3 separate regions of the Homo sapiens genome follow, and regions 1 and 2 are each linked to region 3. Evidence: fine-mapped expression QTL. A gene starts in region 3. Each other region holds a variant in brackets. All regions are shown on one strand. Distances are between the middles of the regions. Region 1 overlaps SLC9A7 (solute carrier family 9 member A7). Region 2 overlaps SLC9A7 (solute carrier family 9 member A7). Region 3 holds the start of SLC9A7 (solute carrier family 9 member A7).

Region 1 (10,668 bases), 40 kb before region 3:
GAAGCCCCAAACCTCCCCTCAACACAGGATGCTCTATATAATCTGGCCATAATGAAGCCCCTCCCCAAATTTTATTTCCTACTGGACTCTACAAGGACCTCATCTCCACCCCAATCTAATTTGGCAGGTTTCACTATTGCCTCCATACTTATGGACAACACATATATTTTTTGAGATCCCCGACAAATATTTTTTGAGATCCCCGACAAATATTTTTTGAGATCCTACTATGTCCCAGGCACTGTTCTAGTGTTTGGAGATATATGTCAGTGAACGAAACAAATACAAATTCCTGCTTTTCTGGACTTCGTTATATTTCTAATAAGGGAAGAAACATAAGAAACAAAATAAGTAGATTACATGGTATGTTAGAATACGGTAGGTGCTATGGCTAAAAATAAGGCAGGGAAAGGGTTAAGGAGTGTAGTGTGGAGTAGAGGATTGTGAGTTTAGAAAGAACCAATAGAAATCCTGGAAAAGAAAAACATGACCTTAGCATTTTTATTTCATTTTCAAGTTCAACAGCAGACTAGACACAGTAAAGAGAGAACTGGCAAACTAGAAGATAAATTTGTTGAAAGAGATTCATTCATCAAGCAAATTAATACTTATTGAGCATGTACTATATATCAGACATTGCGCTAGATTAAATTATTCCATCTTGACAAAATTCCTTTCCACTTGGATTATGTTCCCAGGTTTAATTTCAACTCTTTAAGACCCTACCCAAGCTCCTTACTCACATTGATATCTCATTTCTCTCAATAAGTATCCTAAAAATAATTTTTAAAGAATTTTTAAAGTATTTATTTATATCACAGATTAGTCCAGTTCTTAAATTATTCCCTCCCTAACTAGACTGTAAATTCCTTGAGGATCAGACCTATAGGTAAGATTTCTTTTCTATTTCACATGTGGAATAGCACAGTAACAGGCATACAGTAGGCATTCAATAAACACTTGACTGATTTGGTATATTTTTGGGTCCCTATAACTGAACAGCTTTTTCTTTGTAATGGCTCAGTTACAGTTAGTTCCTGGAAATGGTCACAAAATTGTTAATAACTACATTATGATTCACTGATCCCAAAAATATGAGTCCAGTGGTATAAGGTTAAATTCTGAATCTAATCAAATTTTTGCGAATGTGCCCTCATTCTCGGTTAGTTGAAAATGACAAATGTCGCACAGAGTGTATTTTTCAGTCTTGAGAAGCCTTATACATGCCCTCTGACTTAGAATTGACTTACAATTTTTCCCCTTTAAGATGGTGCAAAAGCGATACACATTCAGTAGAAACTGAACTTTGAGTATCCATACAACCATTCTGTTTTCACTTTCAGTATGGTATTCAATAAATTATGAGCTATTCAACACTTTATTATGAAACAGGCATTGTGTTAGATGATATTGCCCAATTGCAGGCTAATGTAAGTGTTCTGAGCACATTTTCGGTCAGCTGGGCTAAGCTATGATGTTTGGTAGGTAAGGTGCATTAAATGCATTTTCAAATTGCAATATTTTAAACTTATGATGGCTTTATCAGGACATAACTCCATCATAAGTCAAGGAACATCTGTACATTACTTAATTTTATTTCTGGCAAAAGTCCTTAAGGCAGGCAGTGCACATATAGACAGCCCCTGACTTATAATAGTAATCTTATTTTATAAATCAAGATGTTGAAGTCTAGAGATATTAAGTGGTCTGCTCAAGTGAAGATGGGTACTGAAGACTGAAGGAGTGACTCAGACCTGAGACTTCTAGATCCCAGTCCAATGCTCAGATGCATAAACCTAGATGCATGATATATCATTAAGGGGATAAGTGGTAAGGTGAGAATTTGCAGGGCCTTAGAGGGCTCTGACTTGGTAAAGATATGCTTATTTTGAGCACGCAAATAGAAACCAGCCAGTTTCTTTATTAAAAAGAGAAGAAACAAACATTGATAAACCAAGAAAGGAATCCCTATTGCCTGCCTTAATTCAATAAACATTCAGCCACTGGATGCTATGAACCCTGAGACGACTTAGGCAGGATCCTCTTCAGTAAGACCAGAAGCTCTAGCACACAGCACAAATGCTGCAACAGACACAGGTGCTACAAAAGCACAGAGGGGAAGGAATTTCCTTGCCCAAGTCTGTTCTCAAATTCCCACTCACTCACCCCCTAAAACACTTTAAATATAGAATCATGCAGACTCTATGGCTATCATAAATGTACTGACTCTTCTGGTTTAAAATATCCATTGTAACCATTAGCAAATTGGAGATCTAACTGATTTATACCCAAACAAGAAGGGACGATTCTGATATCAATAGGCAAATAGTACCCAAGTGGCTTTAAAACCTTATTTGAAGCTATTTTGATCATAATGTGTTTCTTTTTATTTATTTATTTTTTCCTGTTTCTGATTCTAGTTCCCTGCTGTTTGGGGAAGGGGAAACCACCTTGTACTGAAGTCACTTGGCTTCTGGATAAAGCCAGAACTCTGACCAAAACGATAAAGGCTGCCCAGGACAGAAATGAAACAAAAAATCCTAGCCCTACTTCTCCATTGTGGACACCTGGTCTCATGAGTTATGGCAACACGCATCCACCAGAATAACCGCATTTTCCTAAAGAAATTGTGAAATAATTGGGAAGGGGGTGTCCCATTCTTGAGTAAGTAATCAGCATTGCAGACAAGAACTATGTCATAAAAACCAAAGTTGAAATTGTGTTACATATTCCTGGAAAATACTCAAAAGGTGCTCTGAGTTCTATAAGATGGACAGATACATTATACATACTAATTATACCAAAGGTCAGGTGATTAGAAATGCCACATTGTACCACAAAAATCACCCTGATACTTGTGTTAATTTTTCTTGTATTTGTGTAATAAAGTGTTTTGAAGTTTTTAAGAGAAAATTACTGCACAAGGAGCAGTCATCTTCTTAAATGTCCCAAAAAATACTGATGTAGGGTCATCCAAAATCTTTTTTTTGAGACACAGTCTGCTCTGTGGCCCAGGCTGGAGTGCAGTGGCACAATCTCAGCTCACTGCAACCTCCACCTCTGGGGTTCAAGCGATTCTCCTGCCTCAGCCTCCTGAGAAGCTGGAATTACACATGTGCGCCACTGTACCTGGCTAATTTTTGTATTTTTAGTAGAGATGGGGCTTCATCATGTTGGCAAGGCTGGTCTCGAACTCCTAACCTCAAGTGATCCACCCATCTCAGCCTCCCAAAGTGCTAGGATTACAGGTGTGAGCCACCATGCCTGGCCCCAATCTTTATTCATTTCAGAAACATACTTTAAATATTTATCCAACTGCAACTTTCAAGGGCTGTGAAAGACCTCTTAAAGGAGAACTACAAACCACTGCTCAATGAAATAAAAGAGGACACAAACAAATGGAAGAACATTCCATGCTCATGGATAGGAAGAATCAATATCATGAAAATGGCCATACTGCCCAAGGTAATTCATAGATTCAATGCCACCCCCAATCAAGCTACCAATGACTTTCTTCACAGAATTGGAAAAAACTACTTTAAAGTTCATATGAAACCAAAAACGAGCCCACATTGCCAAGACAATCCTAAGCCAAAAGAACAAAGCTGGAGGCATCACGCTACCTGACTTCAAACTATACTACAAAGCTACAGTAACCAAAACAGCAGGGTACTGGTACCAAAACAGAGATAAAGACCAATGGAACAGAACAGAGCCCTCAGAAATAATACCACACATACACAACCATCTGATCTTTGACAAACCTGACGAAAACAAGAAATGGGGAAAGGATTCCCTATT[T/C]AATAAATGGTGCTGGGAAAACTGGCTAGCCATATGTAGAAAGCTGAAACTGGATCCCTTCCTTACACCTTATACAAAAATTAATTCAAGATGGATTAAAGACTTAAATGTTAGACCTAAAACCATTAAAACCCTAGAAGAAAACCTAGGCAATACCATTCAGGACACAGGCCTGGGCAAGGACTTCATGTCTAAAACACCAAAAGCAATGGCAACAAAAGCCAAAATTGACAAATGGGATCTAATTAAACTAAAGAGCTTCTGCACAGCAAAAGAAACCACCATCAGAGTGAACAGGCAACCTACAGAATGGGAGAAGATTTTTACAATCTACCTATCTGACAAAGGGCTAATATCCAGAATCTACAAAGAACTTAACAAATTTACAAGAAAAAATCAAACAACCCCATCAATAAGTGGGTGAAGGATATGAACAGACACTTCTCAAAAGAAGACATTTATGCAGCCAACAGACACATGAAAAAATGCTCATCATCACTGGCCATCAGAGAAATGCAAATCAAAACCACAATGAGATACCATGTCACACCAGTTAGAATGGCGATCATTAAAAAGTCAGGAAACATCAGGTGCTGGAGAGGATGTGGAGAAACAGGAACACTTTTACACTGTTGGTGGGACTGTAAACTAGTTCAACCATTGTGGAAGACAGTGTGGTGATTCCTCAAGGATCTAGAACTAGATATACCATTTGACCCAGCCATCCCATTACTGGGTATATACCCAAAGGATTATAAATCATGCTGCTATAAAGACACATGCACACATATGTTTATTGTGGCACTATTCACAATAGCAGACTTGGAGCCAACCCAAATGTCCATCAATGATAGACTGGATTAAGAAAATGTGGCACATATACACCATGGAACACTATGCAGCCATAAAAAGGATGAGTTCCTATCCTTTGTAGGGACATGGATGAAGCTAGAAACCATCATTCTGAGCAAACTATCACAAGGACAGAAAACCAAACACTGCATATTCTCACTGATAGGTGGGAATTGAACAATGAGAACACTTGGACACAGGGTGGGGAACATCACACACCGGGGCCTGTCGTGGGGTGGGGGGAGGGGGAAGGGATAGCATTAGGAGATACACCTAACGTAAATGACGAGTTAATGGGTGCGGCACACCAACATGGCACATGTATACATATGTAACAAACCTGCACATTGTACACATGTACCCTAGAACTTAAAGTATAATAAAAAAAATTTATCCAACTGACTAAAATGGGTTAAACTAAAAACACAAAACCAGTTAATATATGAGCATAATAAATAAAATAAATAAAAGAGCACAACAAAAATAATAATTTTAAAAGTTGTTTGAGGAAAACCATAGAAAATAAGCTTAAAACTTTGTGCTTCTTGCTGACAAGAACAAAATAGAAAACACTAGAACAAACATAGGTTTCCTACTCTAGCTTAAGGTTTGATAACTCAAAAAAATATTTTGTTGGTCTTGTGCTCTAAGAAGAAACTATCTCAGGGTTTTGTGGAAATTAGGGGGAGGGGGCCACGAAGGTCAATAGCCTTAATAACATTTTTCTCCTAAATGTGAAGGCATTCCATATATGAGTAGCTCTAAGAGAAAACTAAAGACATAAAGTTAGTTTGGTTCTATAAGGGCAATTCCAGGAGTGAAAGGCTGAAGGGCACAATAACATGGTCTAATCTGTCATTTCCTGATGTTTTGACTTAAATTGTTTTTTGAGAAACTAGTAAGTAATATATTCCTTAAGAACATTCCTCTCTCAAATACCAAAATTTTCAGCCAGCCTTCTGACAAGAACAAGATGAACAACAAACATGATTAAGGTCATTACTGAGGACCTCAATAGCTGGTAACATAAAAGATCTATAGGCTACATCTTCCAGGTATGTTGGTTGTAATGATACTTGTTATGAAAAAGAAATCAAAGATCTTGACCTGCATATTCTTGTCTGCTGAAGAGAAGTTCTATAATCACAAACAAGACTTTCCTCAGAAACTAACTTTGGTTCTAGGACTTGAGCAATTATTTGATTCAAGCATAAAAACTTAGTGCCACTGAGTAGCACCTCATCACACCCATATCCTGTCCTTTCCCACTCCTGCCAACTCTACTTCTCAAGTATTTTCCTGATCACCCCCTCTTCTCCTTATTATCATTACTCTGGTTCAAGCTCCCTGACTGGATTTTCTGCAGTCGTTTCTTAACTATCCCCCCTGCTTCTCCCCTGATTCCCCAATCATTCCTTCTCCATCAGCCACCAGACTAATTTCTCTGAATCACAAATGAGGCTAGTCACGCCATGACCCTGCTTAAAATTATTCAGCAGCTTCATCATCCATGGGAAAAAAAAAAATCCAAGCTCCTTAACATGGCATTCAAGGCCCACAAAGCACTGGCACCTGCCAATTTCACTTCCCACTGCCATCTGCCCCTACACATAAACACTCATATTCAACTCCTCAGAATTCCCCACATACACCTTGCATCCTCCTCTACCTGGCATTATTGTCCTCCAAGACCTCCCTCACAGCCGTGGCAGAGAAGAGAAAAGAAGGGGACCCTAGCTGATGGAACTGATCATCCAAATAACTCCTGAAGATCACTGAGATGATATAACAAAGCAAAACCACCTACGTTTTTAGACTGCCAAGACTATATCCTGAATTTCCAGAATAAAACCTCTCAAAAAAGTGATAAAGCATCACATGAGTGGATGTTAAACGTAAGGCCTCACAGTACAACAAAATCTAAACTTAAGAACAAACAGGCTGAACAAAGGACTTCAAATCGGCATGCCCACAAAAGGATCGCCTCTGGTCCTTATACATATAACTACATTAATAATGATTTAAAACATTTTTTCTTACTGCAATTATCTTTATGGTCCTTTTTGAAAATATAATTTGATTTAAGGTGATCTTACAAAATTCCAGGGAATAATTCTTATTCTTAATAAAGTTTAATAGTCTGTTGAGATTCAAGTGTTCCAATAGGTATGGTTCTTTCCACTTCTAAAATTAAATCACTTAATGAGAATTGCCAGAAAGAGACTTCATTAGTAATTATCCATAATGGTAGAGAACACACAAGATACATTTGCACTGTTCTATTGTTATAAGCCAGCAGAAGAGTGGAATTTTCAAAGATGCAAATAGTTCCCCTCGGTCATATTACCCTGGATAGAAATTAGAGCTGCAAGCTAATAGGAGACTGAGGGACAAGGGCATGCTCCTCAGCCTGTGGTTTCTCTGGCTTCCAAAGCTAGAAGCAAATGATTCTTTTTTTTTTTCCAATCCATCCATTAAGCTTCCAAGAAATAAACACGTTTGCTTCAAAATTCAATTCCCTGTGGGGTTATCTTCAGATGCTGCATGGGTTTATTAGAATTAATTGCAACACAGCACAGCTTCCAAAGTGAAGGCCCAGGGTTGACAAAAGACCCTCCCTATCACAGCCACCAACCCACCAAAGGCTATGGGGACTCTCTTGCAAACAATATCTGAGCAATCTCGAGGAAGACAAGCAAAGGCCTTGCCTTTCTCAACTTCAGTCTAGAGCAGGTAGGGAGGGGTAGCCCATAAATGAGTAAACAAAGAGAAAAGATGATTACGTATTGTGCTAAGTGCAGTTAGTGAAGGCAGTCGGCGATGTTTGTCAGCAAGATGCATTTTTTTCCATTTTGCTTCCCACATCTGCAATCAACATATAACTTCATGGTATGAACTATTAAACACATAAACACTAGAACAAATGTGGGTTTCCTATTCCAGTTCAAGGCTTGATAAGTCAAAAAACTATTTTGATGGTCCTGGGTTCTAAAAAAACACTGTTTCTCTCTGGTGGGTGTGTGTGTGGGTGTGGGGGTGTGTGTGTGTGTAAGGGCGAGTAGTGAGTACTAGGGTCAACAACAGCCTTAATAGCACGTTGCCCCCAAATACAAAGGTGTTCCACATATAAGTAGCTATGAATGTGGGTTTCAAAACAAAAGCCTTAACTTAGAGTTTTATTATGTTTTAAAATCATCACTGTCTTAGTGTTTAAACACCTGTTTAAGTCCTCTTAATAAGGTAGAAATGCCTGTTTATGGCTTTTTAAAAATATAAACACAAGGATCCATAGCTTTAAAAAAAACACTTTGTTTCTGTGACAATGTTTGTTAATCTAGCTAATTGAGTTACTTGCAGAAAAATGGGGAACAGAGAGTGATAGTTGAGTTCTTCATGTACAAGTAAGCACTGTTACTCCAAATACCTTAGTTACCTGAATTATTCTAAGGTTATTTGTAAAAACTAAAATTCCACGAGGCAAAGAAGGACTTTTATCAATCCCATTTATATTTGATTTCTGTATTACACATAAAGAATTGGACTATTAAAGAAAGTAACCAAATGAGAGATGGATGTTTAAAAATAACATTAAATGAGTGATTTGGGAACTCCAAAACTTTATGTGACCAAGTTATTTCTTCTCTGTGCCTACAGGTCTTTGTCACACTGGGATTGCAATTTATTAGATGCCATACACAAGTTCTATTGTGGGCTCCAATCAGAGGTACAGGGAAAACCTCCAGAAGATTCTTCCTTAGTAAGCAGCAGGTAACGTTCTGTAATTTTAGGCCACCACACGGAACCAATTGTCACTCACAGTTTCTGTCACAGAGTGGGATGTGTCACACTTCATTTGGTGCAAAATATGACAATGAAAAACACAACTTGATCAACCTATTTTAGCAGCCTCTGTTCAGCCATCAGTGTGAGGAGCTGGAGTACTGTGACAAAGCATTAGGCTCCTTACAATGCCGACCTAGAAACCAAATCACTGCTTTGTAGCAAGGAATGAAAATCAGGATGAAAAAGCTACAGTTGATCTCCCCACCCAGCAAAGGAAATATGGACAAAATACAATCACCACCACATATATAACAGGTGGACTTCATGTAAGGATTAATATAATGATTCATGTAATATAAGGCTCATCTTCAAAAAGGAATGATTTGCTCCCTTTGCCATGACTAATGTGTCTGGGTGGGGCAGCCCGTGGTGTATCGGCAATAAGATTTCTACAAAAAAAAAAAAAAAAAAAGAAAGAAAGAAAGAAAAAAAACAGAAAGAAAAGAAAAGAAAGCAAAAACACCACCACAAAGCAATGTCTGAATCCCTGAGTCAGCCCCAAATGCACACTCATTGTTCAGACTTGCCCGGGTTTCCTCCCAAAGAAAATTTACTCACTCTCCTATGGAAAGGCAAAGTAGGAGACTACAGGAGCATCAAAGCCATGGACCCTGTCAAGGATGCCAAGAGGAGGGGGAAATACACCTTCCGACCTCAAGAATTTTGGAGAGGGGGCTGTCTCAGTAGCAAAGCGGGTCAAGAAATGTGATATGAGGCCCTAAAACCATAGCATAGGACTTCCTCGGTATGTAGGACAGGGGTACAAGCCAAAGGGCAGGTGCTATATTCACCCACACACACCATAAGGAATCCATGCTTCCTGGAAACTGCCCATTGATGTCACCCTGTGCAGCTGTAACCTGTGTGAGTGTTCTGACTCAGTCATAACAATGACATTTTGGCTGGGCACAGTGGCTGACGCCTGTAATCCCAGCAATTTGGGAGGCTGAGGCAGGTGGATCACTTCAGGTCAGGAGTTCAAGGCCAGCCTGGCCAACATGGTGAAACCTCATCTCTACTAAAAGTACAAAAAAAAAAATAGCTGGGCGTGATGGCGCACGCCTGTAGCCCCAGTTACTTGAGAGGCTGAGGCAGGAGAATTGCTTGAACCTAGGAGGCAGAGGTTGTAGTGAGAAGAGATCACACCACTGCACTCCAGCCTGGGCAACAGAGTGAGATTCCCTCTCAAAACAACAACAGCAGCAACGATGACATTTTAAAAACAATTAATTCCACTTTTTTTTTTTGAAGCAGTTGCTTTTTTATTGTTAACAATCCCTCATATGAGAATAGCCCATTGCGGTTAATAAGGTACTTATGACCATTACCTCAATTATTCCTCACAAAAGCTCTATGAGATATAAGCATGATTTTACTAATAAGGAAACAGAAGCTTAGAGAAGTTGAATAGACTACTCAGTAGTTAGTAAATGGTAGACCCAGGGCCCAAGCCCAGATTGTTCCTTGCTCTTTCCTCACAATGGTTAACTTGGTTTCTGGAGTGGAGTTATAGGCTAAAATGACATTAAAATTCTATTAAATGTGGTTTCCGCAGTAGAGGTTTTAAGCTGAAGTGATATCATTAAAATTATATCCTTTTGAAAAATATTTATTGAGTATAAATAAATGTCCTATACATTAAATATCAAGAAATATTCATTATTGATTACAAGTCAAGATGTAATACTGAGGGAACCATAGAATAAAAATACCCACTCATGATACAGTAGTGATAACTCCATTCCAATATTGGACACAGTAATGATTTGTTCACAAGACACAACAAAACCCATCAAAAAGGCCATCACTTTAACCAACCTATAATACCACAATAGAAAATGGTTCTGAAACATAATATGAACAGCCCCAATAATCTCATCTTTGTCTTATCAGTTTATCAGGTCATTTTGAGACTGCAGAGTTATAGTGTCATAGATTTTTAACATTCCATTTCCTTAGTTTTATTTCAAATTATTACTAATGAATGAAAACAAGTCATACAAGCCAAAGATACCTTTAAACTAAGTTCAATTTTCATAAGAAAAAAGGAATCAAATTTTAGTACAAAAAAAGCGTTTCCCAAACAATGAGTCTCCTAATGGAAAAAATACAAGAGCAATGTAATTAAACTTTCCTTCAAAGAAAGGAAAGAAACGTAAATCTGTTACGTTA
Region 2 (10,668 bases), 70 kb before region 3:
GACCTACCTCTTCTCCTTCACCCTGGTTGTCACCACCCTCCATCACTTGTCTCTGCACAGGAGGGTTAGAACACTCTGGTCAAGAATCATAGGGTCTCTGCAAGGGAGGAGGCATCTTCTGTGTGCTGTAAGGCCTGACGTTTAAGGGAACTCTCCAATCCTTCTTTTCCCCACTCTCATTGTTCTGGTAATTGTGCTGGTGACCGTGTGGAAGACCCCCATGATGCAGATAACATCTATAATGGCTTCAGTCTACTGCATCTGTACTGCCTGGCACTGGAACTCCACCAGGGCCTGCAATCTTTGCTGCCTGTGTACCGTTTTCTCCTTCAACATCGAACTCCACAGCTTCTCCATCCCCTGTACTGCCAGGGTGTTTCCTGGGGGTTATTCTTCTTTATGACAATCTGGCATACAAATACATCTCACCCAGTGTCATTCCTGTGGACGAAACCATATATATTTCTTACACTGAACCATCTTACTGTTCCCAAACTTTCACTGGGATAACCTTCTTGTCCTGTTTGCAGGCTGCCACTCCCTCTGCCTCTGCCCATGGTGTCATGCCAAGTGTCTCAGCCTCACTGCTCATGTTTGCGGTCACAGTAATGGTGACTGGGGCCAGCTGTGGCAGCAGTGGCCCCTTTGCAGGTGTGATGGTAATGAGATTGGTGGCAGTGGAGCTGTTCAGGGCTCTGGGGGGCTCTCTCTCCACTCTAGATGGAACTCTGTGATGCTTTTTAGTCTTATTTCACTCCCTGGTTAGACAGTTATTTTCTGACGAAGTTTTACATGGCAAAGACGACTCTAGCCCTTCAACACTCATCATAATACAGGATGATCTGCAGCATCTGGAGGCAGCTATTTGGAACATGATTTAACTTAAATTGTCATCAGGAAGCCAAAACAAGTCATTTACAGACTATCTTTCTCCTAAAAATCAGAACCTGCTTCATGTAACTCATTGTTTCTTGACTTTTCTAACCTCATTATTAGCAGAGCTAATGGAAAGACTGAAGCATACTAGCAAAGGTCCTCATGAATACTACTCTAACAAGAGAGGGTTTATATTTGTAGACAAATTCCTCAATTAGAGGAAACATTCTTCAACTCTCTTCCAGTAATCATCACTATCATATTTACAATCATCACCAGATGACGAATATTGCTTTTTAAAGTTGTAAAACCTTTTCTTCTCTACCCTGGGCCCAATGCGCTCATATTAAAGATGGAAGGGAGACAGCGAAGGTGGTGATGCTGCCCCCTTGTGGTTAAAATATGGCAACACAAAACACCACAGCAGAGATGTAAGGTTAACACCATCCTGACAGTTTTGACCAAAAATATACCAAGCCACAGGGTACACCACTAACTCAAGGTAGAGTTTGGGTACCTCCCCAGACATTTTAGATTCATATTTATTACCACTATATTCCATGGCATGATATTAAGTTCATATTTGGCGTTTTCCAGTTGAAGAAAGAATAGGATATTAGAACTGCAGGAAGGTAATTAGGTGAGAAAATGATAAAGACTTGGAGAAAACATGAACAGCATATTTTCATCTGCTGGATCTCGGAGACATCCTGACAGGGAACTGTGAAGTGGTCATAGCTACAAGGAATTAAAACATGCACTAGATTTTTTTTTGAAAGCTTCAGAAAGTTCAGTATTCATAAAAAATGATGGAGAGCAACAGAAGCACTAATGATTTGACCAGATTAACAGCCTAGTGTTCTAGATCACAAAGAGAAATAACCTACTGTGTGTTTGGGCCAGGGAAAATAGCACATAAAATGTCAGCTGATAAAGAGACAATCACTGATTTCGTAGGTACATTACTAATGAAAGAATTGTTTTGAACTTTTACAGAAAGCAAATATGGATGAAATTCCTTTGACATTTGATGTGGCTTAAAACAAGATGGTAAACTCCAAAGGGGCAAAAATTCGAGACTGTTTCAACTTGTGGATAGGAAAAAAACTCACTTCACAACTGTACTTGCATATATATAGTTTATGTATGTGCTTATCCAAAACTTGGTAGTATGATGAAGGAATATAATCATGAGAGCAACGTGTGGTTTAAAAATCCCACGGGTTCATTAAAGAAACCAGCTCCCATTGGTCTGGTGCCAGTTTTCCTTTTGTGGCTGAGGCTGTTGGGAGGAGAGCTGAACAAGTGGACATGGTGAGGTTTAATTCTAGACAGCCATCCATCAGCTACAATATTTAAATGTCTATGTTAATAAGCCTTTGTTACGGAGGAGAACAGGTACGTGGGTGCACTGTTCTTTAGTGAGACCTCATTTTTTCTTATGTAAGGTACTGAGGGTAGGTGATCACCTGATCAGTGTGGCCACCACTGTGGAGTTTTTTACAGCACAGTAGGGGTTGTTATGAGTTTTAAAGCTTCATCTGAAATTCCAAGAAAAGAAAGTATCTCATTTTGCATCCAGTTACACAGTGTTTGAAGATGGTGATAACTATTTCTAATTCAATGAATAAAGAGAATCCAATGGATTCCAGCAGTTGACAATGACTTTTCAGGTTTGGGGGTAATTTACATGACTTGGATTTTGAGAGTGAATATTACAGCCCTTTCAATACCTTGTTCTACTTGTTCTGCTACTTATGCAGCTGTGTTATTCGTTGATATATTAGTTTCAAGGAGAATTCATTCAAAATATTTTTGTTCCTTGTTTTGAATATGTGGTGAAACTAAAAAGCAATTTTATTAAGGTACAATTTACATACCATAAGATTCACCCATTTTAGAGTATACTATTCAATGATTTTTAGTATATTCACAGAGTTGCACAATCATCACTGCAATCTGATTTTGAAACATTTCCATCTGCAGTCACTTCCTGCTTCCTACTCCAATTCCCAGGCAACTACTAATCTACCTTCTGTACTATAGATTTGCCGTTTCTGGACTTTTAATATAAATGGTGTCATACAATATGTAGCCTCTTGTGTCTGGCTTCTTTCACTTAGTATGTTTTCAAGGTTTATCTATGTTGGAGGCATGTATCAGTACTTCATTCCTTTTTATTGCCAAATAGTATTCCACTGTACCAGTGTATCATATTTTATTTGTCCATTAACTAATCAATAAATATTTGAGTTGTTTCCCTTTTTTGTTAATGTGAATAACGCTGCTATGAACATTTGCATACAAGTCTGTGGACATGTTTTCATTTCCCTAGAGTAGATACCTAGGAGTGGAACTGCTGTGTCATATGATAAATCTATGTTTAATATTTTAGAAACTGCCAAACTACATTGGGAAAAATGTATTGTTTTACATTCTCGCCAGCAACACATGAGAGTTACAGTTTGTTGGCCGGGCGCAGTGGCTCACACCTGTAATCCCAGCACTTTGGGAGGCCGAGGCGGGCAGATCACCTGAGATCAGGAGCTCGAGACCAGCCTGACCAACATGGAGAAACCCCATCTCTACTAAAAATACAAAATTAGCTGGACGTTGTGGCACATGCCTGTAATCCTAGCTACTCAGGAGGCTGAGGCAGGAGAATCGCTTGAACCTGGGAGGTGGAGGTTACGGTGAGCCAAGATCGTGCCATTGCACTCTAGCCTGGGCAACAAGAGCGAAACTCCGCCTCAAAAAAAAAAAAAAAAAAAGAGTTATAGTTTGTTTACAGGCACAGCAGCACTTGTTATTGTCTTATGATCATACCTGTTTTAGAGAATGTTCAGAGGTATCTCATTGTAGTTTTAATGTGCATTTCCCTAATGCCTAAAGATGCTGAGCATCTTTTTATGTGCTTATAGGCCATTGTATATCTTCTTTGGTGAAATGTCTCGTCATTCAAATCTCTTGCCATATTTTAACTCAGGTTCTCTTATTGAATGGTAAAAAAAAAACCCAAACTTTTTGTTTTCTGGATAGAAGTCCCTTATTGAAAATACAATTTGAAAATATTTTCCCCAAATCTATGACCTATATTTTTCCTTTCTTTTTTAAAATTTCTCTGATGTTGTCTTAAAATTTTTTTTTTGCTTTATTGTTATACAATGAATTATTTTTTCTTTTGGTGTACAGTTCTATGAATTTTAACACACATATAGATTCATGTAAGCACCACTGCAACAAGGATACCAAATAGTTCTACCACTCCCCCAAAACTCTCTTGTACTATCTCTTCACACTGATACCTTCATCCTACATATTAACCCCAGCAACCACTGCTTTTTGTTTTGTTTTGTTTTGTTTTGTTTTTTCCATTAATACAGTTTTGTCTTTGCAAGGTTAAATACATGGAACCATGCAGTATGTAACCTTTTGAGACTGGCTTCTCTCACTCAGCGTAACACCTTTGAGGTTCATCCAAGTATTGTGTGAATTAACACTTCATCTCATTTTACTGCTAAGTTGTATTCCATTGTATAAACACTCACCTACTGAGGGATATCTGGCTTCTTTCCAGCTTTTGGCTGGCACAAATAAAGCTGCCATGAACACCCATGAACAAGTTTTTATATGAACATGTTTTCATTTCTCTAAGGTAAATACCCAGAGTGGGACTGCTCGGTCATATGTGCAGCATATCTTTAACTTTATGAGAAACTGCAAGCCATTTCTCAAAGTAATTATGCCTTTTTTTTTTTTCAGTTCTTTTTTTTTTTGTTTAAGTTCTGGGATACATGTGCAGAACGTGCAGGTTTGTTACATAGGTATACATGTGCCATGGTGGCTTGCTGCACCTATCAACACATCATCTAGGTGTTAAGCCCCGCATGCATTAGATATTTGTCTTAATGCTCTCCCTCCCCTTTCCCCCTACCCCCTGACAGGCCCTGGTGTGTGATGTTCCCCTCCTTCTGTCCATGTGTTCTCATTGTTCAACTCCCACTTACGAATGAGAACATGCGGTATTTGGTTTTCTGTTCCTGTGTTAGTCTGCTGAGAATGATGGCTTCCAGCTTCATCCATGTCCTTGCAAAGGACATGAACTCATTCTTTTTTATAGCTGCATAGTATTCCATTGTATATATGTGCCACATTTTCTTTATCCATTCTATCAAAGAAATACCATTTGACCCAGCAATCCCATTACTGGGTATATACCCAAAGGATTATAAATCATTCTACCATAAGGACACATGCACACGTATGTTTACTGCAGCACTATTTACAATAGCAAAGACTTGGAACCAACCCAAATGCCCAACTATACCATTTTTTAACCACTGTCCCCTACAGCATCATATGAGGGTTCTAGTTGCTCCACATCCTCATCCACATTTGGTATTGCCAATATCTCTCATTTTAGCCATTCTATTGTAATAGGTGTGTAGTGGTATTTCACCATACTTTAAATTTGCATTTCCCTAATGGCTAATGATGTTGAATATCTTTTTGTGTACTTATTGGCAATCCTAATACCCTCTTCAGAGAAATGTTTCTTCAAGTTATTTGCCCATTTTAAAAACTGGGTTGTTTTCTTATGGGTTCCTTATATATTCTGGGTTCCCTTATACATTTTGGGTTCCTTATATATTCTAGATACAAGTCCTTTGTCAGATATATGATTTGCAAATATTTTCTACCAGACTGTAGCTTGTCTTTCCAGCCTCTTGACATTGTCTTTGGCAGAGCAAAATTTTTTTACTCTGATAGATTAAATCTAATTTATCCATTTTATTTTATTGCTTGTGGCTCTGGTATCATATCTAAAAAACACTTGTCTAACCCAAAGTTATGAATATTTCTTATGTTTTTAAGTGTTTTATAGCCTTGATGCTTACATTTAGATCTCTGATACAATCTGAGTTAACTTAGTGTGTATGGTGTCAGGTTAAGGTCCAAATTCATCCTTTTGCATACGGGTATCTAATTGCTCCAGCACCATTTGTTAAAAATACGGTCTTTTCTCCAGTGAATTCTCTTGGTACCTTTGCTGAAAATCAACTGACCATAAACACAATGGTTTATTTCTGGAGCTGGTGGGAGAAATGGGAGCTGGTGGTCACTGCAGTCTATTCCACCTGCCTGTGATAAATCATCCAGAACATGGATCTGGCAGGGATGGGAGCAATCTTAAATGCCATAGACACCTACTATTCTTACCAAGATTCAGTAGATTTTCTTTAATAAATGTTCCTCAATTTAATTGACCTTTCATCAATTT[A/C]CAGAGACTAAATAGTTATTTTTGACAACTTTGTCCAATTTTATTGCTGTGTTTTGGGAAGAAGATTTATTGAGCTCTCACACAGTCATTCCAGAAGTCCTCCCATGAGCATGAATAACAGAATTCCTACATGCTTGTTATCTTGCCATGTTTTATAAATGTATAAGAAGCAAAAATTTACTGAAAATGTTTGCTTTTGTATATTGTAGCAAATTAATTCTAAGGCATTATTTGTTGCTATTTACCAACTTTTCCTGATATATTTATTTTGTCTGGTAGTAATGAGGAAGCATAATGGAGAAGAATTTGGTAGATTCAGTGACAGAAGACCTGGGTAGGTAACTTCACTTTCCACCTAGCTACAATCCAGCACAAAGTACCTCTCTGCTGCTCATTTCTAAAATTGGGCTGTTGTAAGAATGTAGTGAGAACATGCATATGTCAAAACCCTTTATAAACTGTCAAAAGCTGTACAAATGCTGCTTTTTATGAGCCCTTTAGAATTAGTTATTTTCCTTTGCATCATCTCTTGCTATAAAAATAGTGCATATTGGGGATGGAGGTTAGGAAGACAAGTGATATGTGGGCTGGAGCAAAATAGAAAAAATATCTCTAGAAAAGTAGCTACAGAACTCACTGTTTTTGAAGTTGTCCTGTCCAGCAAAGGCACAGGACACCATAACTTCCTTATTTGTCCCTCTAGCAGCTTCCCAGGTGCCTGTAAAATGAGCACTTCTACAGCAATTTTACAGTTATATAGGGTTTTCACCAGAGGAAAATTTCAAGGGTAGGCATAATTGTCCTTGTATAAATGCTGATTTATTTAGAAGACTCTCCCAGGGATTTAGCAAAACACATAATGATAGTAATAAAACAGTATCATCATATAATGTATCATCATCAATCTTTGTGGCACTGTAGATTGGTAAACAGGCCAAAAAGTAAGCAACCTTACTCTATCAGTTTTCTTTTAATAAGAATTAAAAGACTGCAAGGAAGACAGGTTTCATGGAGCTAGCAACCTTACTATTAAAAATTCCCATTAAAATGGGAAATAAGTATCTGCCATATAATGGGCTAAACCTGAAGTGTGAGACACAAGCCACTGATTTTATTGCTCAATTTCTCTAATGCATTCAGGTCACTTAAAATCAGATGACCTGCATGGCACCATTAGGAAGATTTTTTTCAGAATTGCTTGAGATTCAGCATTGGCACTGAACCATCCGAATGAGATATGAAGCCCACCACAAACAGAACCACAGGTCCTGCCTGCTTGTCCAAGGAAAATCCCTCTGCTTGTGTTTCCTACATACCTAAGGCATGTCTACAGTTGCCCCACACTCATTTTATCCAGATCTCATGCCACTACAAAATGCCAATGTTGGAAGGGACAATACAAGTCCAATTATCCATCACATTTATAAAACACTCTGTTCAACAGCAGACAGGTCTTATACTGTGGTATTCAGAGTCATCTTGGGGAACCAATTAAAGTACAGGTGTCTAGAGTCTCTCCTGTAACTTCTCATCCTGTAGGTTTAGGGGGTGTTTGAGGTATTTTGATTTAAAGAAGTTCCATATCTGATTTCAATGCATGCTCAGAAATGAGAACGAATGGTCTCTAAGCTTCTTACCATGATATTATACAGCTCTTGTTTAAATACAGACAGTGAGGGGGCTCACCATCTTCCAGGTCTATCCTTTTTGCAGCAGGACAACACTGGCTCTCTAAACAGAGTCAAAGTTTGTCTCCCTGTAGCTTCTGCCCACTGGTCTCAGGCCCCTTTTATTATGACCACTGAGAAGCCATACTTCTCCAAGCTCTGGATTCCCACCTCACCAGAATTTTCTAAGTGCCAGTTGTATGAAAAAATCCAAATTGTACAAATACTCGTTCTGTGAAAAATGAATGACCAAAATGTAAGATTTATACACTGAAAATTACAAAACACTGCTGAGAAAAATGAAATGACCCAAATAAATGGAGAAACATCCCATATTCATAAATTAGAAGACTCAATATAGCTAACATGACAATGCTCCCCATATTGCTCTACAGACTTAATGCAATTCCTATCAAAATTCCAGCAAATTTTTTGGCAGAAATTGACAAGCTGAGCCTAAAACATACATGGAAATGCAAAACCACCAGAAGATCGCAAATTACCTTGAAAAATAACAAAGCTGGGTGAATTTCACTTCCACATTTCAAAACTCACTACAAAGATAGTGTGGTAGTGGTATAAGGATAGACACATAGCTCAATGGAGCAAAACTGAGAGTCCAAAAATAAAATGGTGTGTTTATGGTTAATTGATTTTCGATAAAGATGACAATGCAATTCAATTGAGGAAAGGACAATCTTTTCAACAAATGGTGCTGGGACAATTGGATATCTACATGCATAAAGATGAACTTAGACTCTGACCTCCTACTATATATAAAAATTAATACTATATATATAAAAATTAGTTCAAAATGGGTCAAAGACCTAAATCTATGAGGTTAAAATTATACAACCTTTAGGAAAAAAAAAGCCTAGGGGAAAAAATCTGTGAGTTCCTAGGTTAGGTAAATTTTTCACTGATATGATATGAAAAGCACAAACAATAAAATAAAAAATTGATAATTTAAATTTTATCAAAATTCAAAACTTTTGTGCTTCAAAAGACATTATTTGGGAAGCCAAGGTGGGAGGATCACTTGAGGCCAGGAGTTCAAGACCAGCCTGGGCAACACAGTGAGACCTCATCTCTACAAAAAAATTGCAACGTGGATGGAGCTGGAGGCCATTATCCTAAGCGAATTAAGGCAGGAACAGAAAAACAAATACCACATTTTCCCACTTATAAGTGGGAAATAAATGCTGAACACATACAGACATAAACATGAGAATAATAGATATGATGGACTACTTGGGTGGAAAGATGGGGAGTGGGTTGAAAAACTACCTATTGTGTACTATGCTCACTACCTGGGTGCAATATACTCATGTAACAAACCTACACATGTATCTTCTGTATCTAAAATAAAAGTCAAAATTAAAAAAAAAGAAGACTGAGGTGGGAGGACCACTTGAGCCCAGAAGTTTGAGGTTACAATGAGCTATGATCACACCACTGCACTCCAGCCTGTGTGACAGAGCAAGAACCTGTCTCTTAAAAAAAGAGAGAAAAAAAGACATTATTAAGAAAATGACGAGGAAAAAACTGCAGACACATATTTGATAAAGAACTTGTATCTAGGATATATAAATATATAACTCCATAATAAGATAATTCAATTTTAAAATGGGCAAAAGATTAGAATAGACATTTCACCAAAAGAAATTATGAATGACTAATAAGCACACGAAAAGATGGTCAACATTATAGATCATTCAGGAAATGCAGATTAAAACCATAATGAAATACCATTTCATGCCCACTAGAATGGCAATTATCAGAAATACAGATACTAACATATGTTGGAGAGCATGTGGCAAACCTAACCCTCATACGCTGCTGGTGGGAATGTATAATTGTGCAGCCACTTTGGAAAACAGTTTGCAGTTTCTTAAAAAGTTAAAAACAAACTTACCATACAACTCAGCAATTTACACTCTACCCTAGACTAGAATTGAAAACAGATGTCCACACAAAGATTTGCAGACAAATGTTCATACTAGCATTATTCATAACAGCAAAAAAATGAAAACAACTCAAATGTCCATCAACTGATGAATGGATAAACAAAATGTGGTCTATCCATACAGTAGAAAAAGGAACGAACTTGATACATGCTACAACATGGATGAACCTAAAAGATATTACACTAAGCATACATGCTCAGTGAAAGCCAGTCACAAAAATGCCACATATTGTATAATTCCATTTCTATGAAGTGTCTAGGACAGGTATATCTACAGAGATGGAAAGTAGATTCATGGTGGCCAGGGGCTAAGGCATGAAGGATCCTATTGGGATGATTAAGATATTCTGAAACTGAATTATCATGGTCACACAACTTTGTGATTTTACCAAAAATCACTGAAATTGTATACATGAGTGCATTTTATGATATGTAAATTATATGTCAATAAAGTTTTTTTTTAAAAAAAGAGCAAATGAGAAAATGAATCTAGAGATCGCATGTGCGATCCTTTTCCAGTACTAGTGTTCCATACTTTTCCAATAAGTATCTCTCAAAGTGAGAACTGAACTGATGTAAGACCAGCAGACAATATATTCTGTAGTGCAAGGGCTACACGCATGAATACCTATATGCAGATCAAATATGTAACACAAACGTAAATCCTTCAGGACCCTGGAAGAAACAGAGGGGAATATACAATGACTCTCAGGAAGTGATAGCAGGTTAACTATATAGGTGGTATATCTAAATGCAACTTTACTATTATTTTTTCCAATGGGAAACACAGCCTAAATGCCACCTCCTCCAAGAGGCCCTCCCTGACTCCCTAAGCTAGGCTAGGTTCCAAGGCTTTGTAGTCCCACTGCACTATGTGC
Region 3 (10,668 bases):
ATGGGGGAAGTGGAACTACCGTACATCTGAGAGAGAACCACAATGAACTGGCACAGTCTGTTTATACCAACTTTCCCTGCCCTAAACACTTTCTATTTCTGCTGCAAAGACATGTAGGGCCCAGTAACTTTAGGATGGCACTTAATCACATAACAGAGACAGACAGCTGGGAGCTCCCTGGCCTGACAAAACAGGTTAGACTGGTGGCAGGCAAGTGCCTGGCCCCGCTGCCTTGCAGCTCCAGTGGTGGGGTCTGGGGGCTGCTTTCAACCTTCCTGGGGAGTTAGGTCTGTAGCTACCTTCCCTTGTAGCTGCCCTGGCCTGTCAGGGAGGAATGCTTATAAGTGTCCTTTGGTGGGTGGGGGAGTTCCTTTCTGTTTAAACGTTAAGCATTCACAGTGTGTCTTTTATTTTCCTTAGGTCCTCTGCATCCAAGCAAGCACTTATTATGGGGTCTATTTGTGCACATCACTGCTAATGTAACATTGACTACTCTCTGAGGATAATGGAATAAAGGGAAGGAAAAAGAGGGAGAGAGCGAGTGGGAAAGAGAGGGTGAGAGAGGGAGGGAGGGAGGGAGAGAGAGAGAGAAATCTCTTCCCCTTTCCCCATTTTATCTCCATCCCAGACACAGGGCTCAGAAAAGCTCCAAGGGCACAATTAAGAATTGAAAAGTCATGAAGAAAATTGATAACATAATGTGATTTAAATAGGGAGAAGTAGGCGTCAAATTGAGTGATTTGAGGAGCACGTTAAAATGCTATTACAGCCGGGTGCGGTGGCTCACACCTGTAATCCCAGCACTTTGGGAGGCTGAGGTGGGTGGAGGTCAGGAGTTCAAGACCAGCCTGGCCAAGATGGTGAAACCCAATCTCTACTAAAAATACAAAATTTAGCCGGGCATGGTGGCGGGCGCCTGTAATCCCAGCTACTCAGGAGGCTGAGATGAAGAATTGCTTGAATCCGGGAGGTGGAGTTTGCAGTGAGCCGAGATTGCGCTACTGCATTCAAGCCTGGGCGACAGAGTGAGACTCCGTCTTGGAAAAAAAAAAAAAAAAAAGCTATTACAAGACCAAGAAGCATACAAGGTTATATGGTGACCTCTCCCTCCCACTCCTATTTCACAGCCATCTAGTTCCTCTCCCCCAAGGAAACCAATGTTACTCATCTATTGCATGTCCTTCCAGAGATATTTTACGACTATACCAACAAATATATAAATTTATATATATATAAATTTATCTTAAATGTAAACGCTGTTCTTCTCAGATTAAAGTGTCACTTAAACACAAAAAGGTGGCAGAAATTACATTTTAAAACTTTTTCTCAAAATAAAGAGTTTTGAAATTCACAGTTGAACTCTTTCATTCATAAACATTTAAAAGTTAAATTGTTTGCCTCCAGAAATTAAGTTGGGTTCCCAGCACACAGTGGATACTTTAAAAATGTTTCCTTAGGTCTTTTTGTCGTTCCTTATTCAGAGCCAAGAGGACAATTACTCACTTCCTCTATTGATATAGAGAAATCAAATTTTATTTTTTACTATTAAAAAAGAGAAGTCTTGAAAAATCTTTACTGGATTTACTTGTGTTCAAAGATTTGCTTGACAGTAGTAATCATTTCATTGTGTTTATCAAAACATCATGTTGTACATCTTAAATGCAGACAATTTTTTAAAAGATTTGCAAACTGAATTTTAAGATCAGTTTAAAATCCCCATCCCAATAGTCTTCAGTATACTATGAATAATTAGCTAATCACATGACATTAGAATTCAGATTAGGGGGACCTTGCAGTAGAAGACCAAACATACCTGAGAGAAAGAAGAAATGTTTTCTCACAATTACAGACAGTCCTTAAAATATTAATATTTGGCATAACCTGAGACATCACATATTGACAAACTAAATTTCTTTATACATTTAAAGAAACACTAATACTCAAAGATATAGAACAAAATTACACAGGAATGCTGAGATGATATTGCCTTTTCTGAACAGCCATCAGTTACACTAGATTTGTAACTTGATTGTTCACAAAATAAAACAGTACACTGTAGCACAACCAAATGGCTGAAAGATGGAGGTGAGTTTTAAAAGTACGTATCAGCAAAGGAAAATTCCACTGTTGTCTTTAAGCCTTAAGATAAAGGTGATTGAACTCCTCAGAACACGGAGTACTCTCCAGAAAATATATTTTCAAATCCCCATTTATTTTCCATCCCTTGAGCATGTGTTTACGAATCTGACAAATCTACCTCCTATTTCACATTGTCCTTTAAGAAACTGGGTCTAGGGCCTATTAAATAAAAATATTTTCACGGTTATCTATATAAAGGCAATTTTCATTTGCATCATGGCTTGGAGTCAATCACCTGCAATGACCACGTGCTTCAATTCCCCCCTGTCTGTCTTCTCAGGAAACCTCCCAGCTTACCTGCAGGCCTGGCATCAGTCATTTATCACCAACTGACACAAACCACAGAGCTCAACAACGGTCAGGGATGGAGGCCAAAGTCTGTGTTGAGACCTATAATTCGCAATCACCAAACTCGGTTTTAGACCTGGTCCTGTTTCAAGATCTGTGTAGGTCACTACTTCATCAAAACTGGAGGGCTCTTAACAGCGCTTGCCCCTTACACGGTTTGGCTGCGAGGGCCTGGTGGCCATGAGCCCCGGCTGTCAACAACTAATCAAGAAACATGAGAAGCAAGGCCCAGAACCAAGGGTAATTTTCACATTAAAGGTTAAGGTTTCTGCTTTCCATTCTCTATCAGGGCACCTGGATGGAAACTGAATAAAGAAATCCCTCAGTATATGTGATAAAATAAAATTTTCCCCGTTGGGAACAATCATGAAGTGGCTCGTCTATTTCGTGTGAGGATGCCAATTCAGGGGCTTTAACACCACTGAATTACATTCAAAAAGAGAATACCTGACTCCACTTTGGAGTCATGGGCAGGGCGAGGGGGGAGGCAGGGGGCACAGAAGAGGAAGAGGGATGACTCAGATTATGGCTGACATCCATGTAATAAAGGGAGATTTGTACTGACCACTGTGCATGTAACACACTGTGTACCATTAAATCTAGAAAAGGATGGTAGCATCAGCCCACCCCTAACAACAAAAGATGGCTGACTCCGGAATTAAAACCACGACTTTTCCCCTTCATACATTCGGAAATGTATCTCAAACTCACTCCCTGTTACCGTCTTAGGAATACAAAAGCTCCTCTTCGTTTGAGAAAGCAAGTAACTGGGTATAACTTTCCACTCGGGACATAAGAGCAGGAGGCGTGCCTGTCTCCTCGTCCAGGCCTGACATGGTGGTGCCACCCACTCTGGGTCCTGGACCACTGCTCACCTTTCACCACACTTCATGCTCTGACTTTATCATTAAGAGACCTGGGAATGTGGACCTCAGGAGTGGGTACCCACCCAGGCTGACCATGGATGTGGCGTCCAAGAGGCCCCACTAACCCATACCCAAGCAAAGACACTTTCAGACTTCGTCCCCACTCCCTACTGTGGCCTGTCCCCTGAGGTGATGCAGTCACCTGGGAAGCCACCCACCTCCAGCCACCACGCAGGCACACACACCCTATCGAGCTCAACTGGAGCGGGAGGTGGTGGGTAAGAGGTTTGCAACAGAGACCGAACGGGGCAGACGGAACCGGACCACCTCTGTCCCTTTCATTTTCCTGGGTTCCCAATGCAGAAACGTGGAATAGGGGTGGAATTGTTTTTAACGGTAGCAGAGAGCCAGAAAATGCAGACAGTTGACCTTGGGAACCAACACCGTCGCAGCGGGAAACGTAAAAGAAACGGAACACGTTGGCAAGTGAAGGGGGAGCACCGCGCGGCGCCAGGAGGAGCGCGGCGGCCGAGGGGTGTGGAGGGCGGGGGGTGTAACAGGGGTGCTCACCATAGATCATGGCCAGCCCGGTCTCGTGCAGAAAGCGCACCCGGCGGTGCTTGAAGAGCCAGATGGTGAGGATGGTGAGCGTGAGCAGCAGGATGAAGGTGAGCAGGCTCACGCTGTCTTGCCGGTGGCTCTCCTCCGCCTCCTTCTCAGTAGCGAGCTCCTCCATGGCGCTGCTGTCCTCCGCCGCCGCCCCAGAGGAGGAGGCCGAGGCCGCGGCCGCGACTCGCAGCCCCCAACCCAGCAGCAGCGGCAGCAGCAGCAGCCGCGGCGGCGGCGCCCCGGTAGCCCGACCCGAGCCAGGGCGCGCCGCGTCACCAGGCTCCATGGTCCCGGGGCCCCCCGCGCCTCCTCCGAGCGGGGACCAGCAGCCCGCGCCGTCGGCGGGTTCTGGCAGCACCGCGGACCTGCCGGAGTGGCCGTGGCCGCTGCAGCTCCTCCTCCTACTCGCGCCGGGCCGGGGCTGCGCCCGGGGCCGCGCGGGGGAGGGGCGCGCGCAGTGCGCAGGATCCCCAAGCACCGCCCCCCGCCCGCGCACCTGTTCGTCCCCCGGCCGCGCCACGCCGCACCGCCCCGCGGGCCAACCGAGCCACCCAGGCGGGGCCGGGTGTTGCCCTCGGGTCTGCGGGCCGGCCGCCGGCTGCTTGCCTCTCTGCGCTTCTCACCCCGTCCTGGCGCACCTGCCCAGGCAGTCTGGGGTCGTGGGGCCAGTTCATGGGCAGCCGCCGCCGCACTTCCGAAAGGGGACGCCAGAGGTCGCCGGCGCCTAGCGGGAGCATCGGCTTGGAGTGACTAGCCTTGCGGTCTCGAGTCCCGTCTCTGGCGCCACGGCGAAGTGTTTAATCTCAGGCCAGTGTGCAGCCGCCCTGGGCCCAGTAAAGTGGGGGCTGTCAGTGAACCGAGCAGCCCCGAAGCCACGTTAGCCCCTACACCTCTCTTTCCTCATCTCTCAGGTTGCCCTTCCAGCCCCAGAATCTGCTAGGTTTCATTCAAACCTCTGTTCTCATCAGACTCAAATGTGAGGACTGATAAGGAGTTGGAATCGGGGGAGGGCATTGAAGTATCTCCTTCCTCACTTGAGGGAATAGACTTCGTCTGCGCTGTGCTACTAATCCCCTTGGGGAATAGGGTTGAACCAGAAGGAACTGAACGCTTGCCATTCCTGGTAGATGAGCAGTAGCTGGTCCTAAGGTGGTGGTGGGGGGTGGGGGTTACCCTGATGACCCTTTCTTTTATGTTGCTCACCTGGTAGCTCAGAGAGTCTTTTAATGACTCTTAAGACCAAACCCAGCTCTGAACAAAATTATGGCGTGGACTCTGAAGGATGAAGCCTCTTGGAACAAATTCTCAGGAAAACTAGAATCTTCAATCCACCTTGCTCCTCTGGTCAAGGAAGAAACAAGATCAGATTAATCACTGAGTTCCCAGTGCTTAGCACTGTACTCATGTGTTTATTGAACCACTCTGAAATCTCTACCAAAACTGCCCATGTTTTCGCTCCCAGGGGAGTTTGCATTTTTAAGAGGATTCATTGAAGAAGGTGATGCTTAACCAAATGAAATAATAGGGTAGAGGTAGCATTAGGTAAGAAAACTCTTTGGAGTACTGCAGCCTTCCTGGTTCCCCTGTAGGTGAGCACTCTGCCAAAGCTGTTTAGTGGTTTCTTTAAAGCAGGGAAATCTCTTCATCTACATTTTAGCTAGCCCCTTTCCCAACTCCTCTAGGCAGTCACTCAGCCCCTGCAAACATCCGTATACCTTGAAGTTCCACACAGGTTTCCAATAAAATTGCAAATACTTAAAACCTGGATGGGCACTGTGTTGGTCATAATATTATGCCCCTTTGGGTGCCCAGTACTCAAGGACAGAATTTCTCTCTTTAGAAAAGGGCAACTCAGGAGCTACCTTAAAAGTACAGACTTCTTAGTATTTGTGGCGGATTGTATTTTTTAAAAAGATGGCCACAATCATATTTCCAATCCCAGAACCTTACCATCCCCCATCAAGAAGGGGCATCTATGTTCCCTCCCCTTGAACCTCAGTGGACCTTTGTGACTCCCTCAAAGAATATAATGTGGTAATGGAGATTATGTGATTTGTGAGGCTAGGTCATAAAAGGTAATCTAGCTCCTGCCTGTTTCATTCTGTCACTTTCCACTCTAGCTAGGCTGGGCACGGTGGCTCACGCCTGTAATCCCAGCACTTTGGGAGGCCAAGGCGGGCGGATCACCTGAGGTCAGGAGTTCAAGACCAGCCTGACCAACATGGCAAAACCCTGTCTCCACTAAAAATACAAAAATTAGCCGGGTGTGGTGGTGTGTGCCTGTAATCCCAGCTACTTGGGAGGTGGTGGCACGAGAATCACTTGAACCTGGGAGGCAGAGGTTGCAGTGAGCCAAGATTGCACCACTGCACTCCAGCCTGAGTGACAGAGTGAGACCCTGCCTCCAAAAACAAAAAAACAAACAAACAGACAAAGAAATCTAGCTACCTGGAAGCTGACATACTGAAGAAACCATGTAGAGAGACCATGTAGCAATAGAGGTAGATGCCACAGGAGACCCAACTTTTTGAGTGTTCCCAGCCCAAATGCCACACATGTGAATGAATGAGTCTTCAAATCAATTCATTCCCAGCCACCATCTTACTGTAGACATATGAGAGGCCCCAAGCAAGAACCATGTCGCTGAACCTAACCAACATCTGCAACTGTAGCATAATAAAATGATTGGTGTTATTTTAAGCTACTAAGTTTGAGGGTGGTTTCTTCCACAGCAATAGATAACCAGAAGAGTATTTATTATGTAAAGTAGTTCCCTTGGGTAGAGTATGAAAAGACTAGTCCCAACCATTCACAAATACACACCAAAGAAAACACTCCATTATCTCTACATATTTATGTGTGAAAACTAACCTATATAATACAGGAGTTCTGATTTCAGTTAACACAGAATAATCACACTAAACCCATTACCTGCTACTGAATACAGCTATAAAATGTGAACAGAATGCATGCAGCAACTATTTGAGGACTCTGGAAAGTAAATTGTACCACATAAACTGAGGAAAAACAACAGAATTTGAAGTAAAACTGAACTGGCGGTGAGTTTACCATTTTTTTCCTCCAGTCTCCACTAGACTGGACTCAAGGCAGCTTAACACCCGGAAGGGAGCATCAACATGGACAGAGAGAGCTCCAGGAAAAGCAGAAAATTGGTCTCCTAATATTCAGAGAAAGTAGGAGAAATGTGCCATTTTTTTTCTTTTCTCCATTCTCTTACATTTTAGCCAATAAGCAATCCCACTGTGGCACCTCAGTCAACAGTGACAATGGAGACAGCAATACCTTCAAGCACCCAAAAAATGCTAAGGGAGGGGAGAACCTTCCTCTCTGTTTGAAGTAGCTCTGGTCCCAAGACAGTGGGGCCAAAACCTCAATGATATATATTTTTTCACTCTCTCTGTCCTGATGCTTGGCCCAAGACATGGGCAAAGTTTCAGGAAATACATAACAGAGAGGATTAAATAAAGACCCAGATTTCTGGACAGGCACAGTGGCTCACCCCTGTAATCCCAACATTTTGGGAGGCTGAGGTGAGTGGATTTGTTGAGGCCAGGAGTTGGAGAACAGCCTGGGCAATGTAGCAAGACCCTGTCTCTATGAAACATTTAAAAATAAAATTAGCTGGGCACTGTAGTGCTTGCCTGTAGTCTTGGCTACTCAAGAGGCTAAGGTGGGAGGCTCACTTGAGCTCAGGAGTTCGAGGCTACAGTGAGCTATGATCACACCACTGTACTCCAGCCTGGGCGACAGAGCGAGACCCTGTCTTTAAATAAATTAAATAGTCTAGATTTCTTGCCAATTGATTAAAAGGGGAACTCCAAGGCATTACAAAGTACCAAGGAGACAGTAGAGAGGAGAGGACCTTGGGAAAGGTCCTCATAAAGTTTTTATGAACTCCTAGGTTCACCCCAACCTGCACATGGATCTGATCCTAAACAGCATACCAAAGACTGTGATAACTGAACTAAGAGGCAGACCACCACCCAAGCCCTAGACTAGCCACTGGATAAAACACATGTAGGACAGATCTGAATAGCATTACAAACTTTTGAAAACTGAATTGACTTTGGAGCCACTATCCACAAAAGGCATGTCAGAACTTGTGATCTAAACCCAAGCATGTCTATTACAAACTAAAACAAAAATATGAATATTTCCCCATAGTATTAAAACAAGATACAAAGTCCTATAACATAATATTCAAAATGTCCAGGATACAACCCAAAATTATTCAATACCTGAAGAACCATGAAAATCTTAACTTGGGTGGGAAAAGGCAAACAACAGACACCACTGCTGAGGTGACACCAATGTTGGAATTATCTGAAAAAGACTTTAAAGCAGCTATTATAATGATGCTCCAACAAGTAAGGACAAATAATCTTGAAATGAATGTAAGGATAAAAGGCTCAGCACAGGAGTAAAAGATAAAAGAAGAACCAAATTGAAATTTTAGGCTGGGCACAGTGGCTCACACCTGTAATCCCAGCACTTTGGGAAGCCAAAGCGGGTAGATCACAAGGTCAGGAGTTCCAGACCAGCCTGGCCAACATGGTGAAACCCCATCTCTACTAAAAATACAGAAATTCACTGGGCATGGTGGCATGTGCCTGTAATCCCAGCTACTGGGAGGCTGAGGCAGGAGAATAACTTGAACCTGGGAGGTGGAGTTTGCAGTGAACTGAGATCGCACCACTGCGCTCCAGCCTGGGTGACAGAGTGACACTCCATCTCAAAAAAAAAAAAAAAAATTTTATAAGTGAAGAATACAATAGCTGGAATTTTAAAATTGGATGGATGCAATAGCAGAATAGAGATGAAAGAGTCAGTAAATATGAAAATAGATCAATAGAAATTATCCAACCTGAATAGCAGAGAGGAAAAACTGAAAAATAAATAGAGCCACAAAGACCTATAGGAGATAATAAAATATCTAACATTTGTGTCTTTAGAGTTACAGAAGGAGAAGAGAAACAGTGTGGTACAGAAAAAAAGATGTGAAAATATAATAACTGAAAACATTCCAGATAAAGCAAAAGACACAAGCCTGCAGATTGAAGAACCTCAGCAAAACCCAAGCAGGATAAGCCCAAAGAATCAAAGCACAGACACATTATATTCAAACTGCTGAAAAGAAAAACAAAAAAATATGTTTAAAGCAGAAAGATAAAAATGAAATATTACATACAGGGTAACAACAATTCAGATGACTACGGATTTCTCATCAGAAACCAAGAAGGTCATAAAGACATGCACAGCATTTTTAATGTGCTGAAAGAACTGTTAACCAAAAATAATACATCCAACAAAAATAGATTTCCGTGTGAAGAAATAACACCAATACTGTACAGTCTCTTCTAGAGAGTCAGACAGTTGAAGAAAAGAAAGCTACATACCAATATCTCTCATGAACTTAGACATAAAAATTCTTAACAAAATATTAGTAAATTGAATCTAACAATGTATAAAAAGAAGTGTACACCATGACCAAGTGGTATTTATCCTAGGATTACAAGGCTTGTTCAACATGAGAAAATCACTCAATGCAATCCACCATATTTACTGTCTAAAGAAGAAAAGCTGCCTGATCATATTCACTGATGCGGAAAAAAGCACTGACAAAATTCAACATCCATTCATGATAGCTTTCAGCAAAATAGGAATAAAAGGGAACTTCTTTGACCTGATAAAGAGCAGATACCCGCCCCCCCCAAAAAAAAAAACCGCACAGAATATCTAGCATTATTCTTAAAAGACTGAATTCTTTCCCCCCAAGGTCGGGAAAAGGCAAGGAAGTCCACTATCACCACTCTTAGTCAACATTGTATTGGAACTCCAAGTCAGTGCACTAAGACAGAAAAACGAAATAAAAGGCATACGTATATAGCAAAAATCACAATATGTAAATTTTAATGGAATGCTGGGGAAACAGAGGAACTAAAAACAGAGGGAACAAAAAGAAAAGGGAGGAAAAAAGAGAAATTCTCAAAGGATATTAGAAAAATTCTCCTATTCATAGATAATATGATCATCTACTTAGAAAAATCCCATGAAATCTACAAAATCCTAGAACCAAATAAGCGAGTTTAGCAAGGTCTCAAGGTGCAAGGTCAGCACACAAAAACCAATCATATTTCTATATACAGGCTATGTGCAACTGGAGATTTTTTTTTTTTTTTGGTGGAGTCTGGCTCTGTCACCTAGGCTGCAGTGCAGTGGTGCGATCTCGGTTCACTGCAACCTCCGCCTCCAGGGTTCAAGTGATTCTCCTGCCTCAGCCTCCCAAGCTGGGATTACAGGCACCCACCACCACACCTGGCTAATTTTTGTATTTTTAGTAGAGACAAGGTTTTGCTGTGCTGGCCAAGCTGATCTCGAACTCCTGACCTCACCTGATCCGCCTGCCTCGGCCTCCCAAAGTGCTGGGTTTATAGGTGTAAGCCACTGCACCTGGCCAAAAAATCTTTAAAATGTATCATTCACAATAGCATAAAAGAAAAATATTTAGGTATAAATTTTTAACAAAACATGTCCAGGATCTATATGCTAAAATCTATAAAATGTTGATGAAAGAAATCAAAGAAGACCTGAATAAATGAAGAGACATGCCATGTTCATGGATTGAAAGACTAAGCAAAGATGTCAAATCTCTCCAAATTGATATACAGATTTAATAAAATTTCCA

Evidence for each region. PIP is the estimated chance that this variant, and not a neighbour inherited with it, causes the effect. A credible set is the group of variants that fine-mapping cannot tell apart.
Region 1: its variant is the best candidate, but not a certain one, in a credible set for the expression of SLC9A7 in lung (TOPMed, PIP 0.61).
Region 2: its variant is the best candidate, but not a certain one, in a credible set for the expression of SLC9A7 in blood mononuclear cells (TOPMed, PIP 0.53).

What each region holds. Positions count from the first base shown.
Region 1 is chrX:46,714,410-46,725,077 of GRCh38, forward strand. The region is part of intron 1 of SLC9A7 (solute carrier family 9 member A7); the gene reads right to left. It also overlaps the pseudogene CHMP5P1. Among named protein-coding and RNA genes, the nearest start is that of SLC9A7, 39 kb to the right of the region's middle. The variant T/C (reference allele first, on the strand shown) is at 3,802.
Region 2 is chrX:46,684,970-46,695,637 of GRCh38, forward strand. The region is part of intron 1 of SLC9A7 (solute carrier family 9 member A7); the gene reads right to left. It also overlaps the pseudogene YBX1P8. Among named protein-coding and RNA genes, the nearest start is that of SLC9A7, 69 kb to the right of the region's middle. The variant A/C (reference allele first, on the strand shown) is at 6,158.
Region 3 is chrX:46,754,782-46,765,449 of GRCh38, forward strand. SLC9A7 (solute carrier family 9 member A7) reads right to left here and starts at 4,337. Exons shown (of 17, transcript NM_001257291.2): 1 at 3,924-4,337. The coding sequence starts at 4,248. RefSeq lists silencers at 4,109-4,248, 4,269-4,618.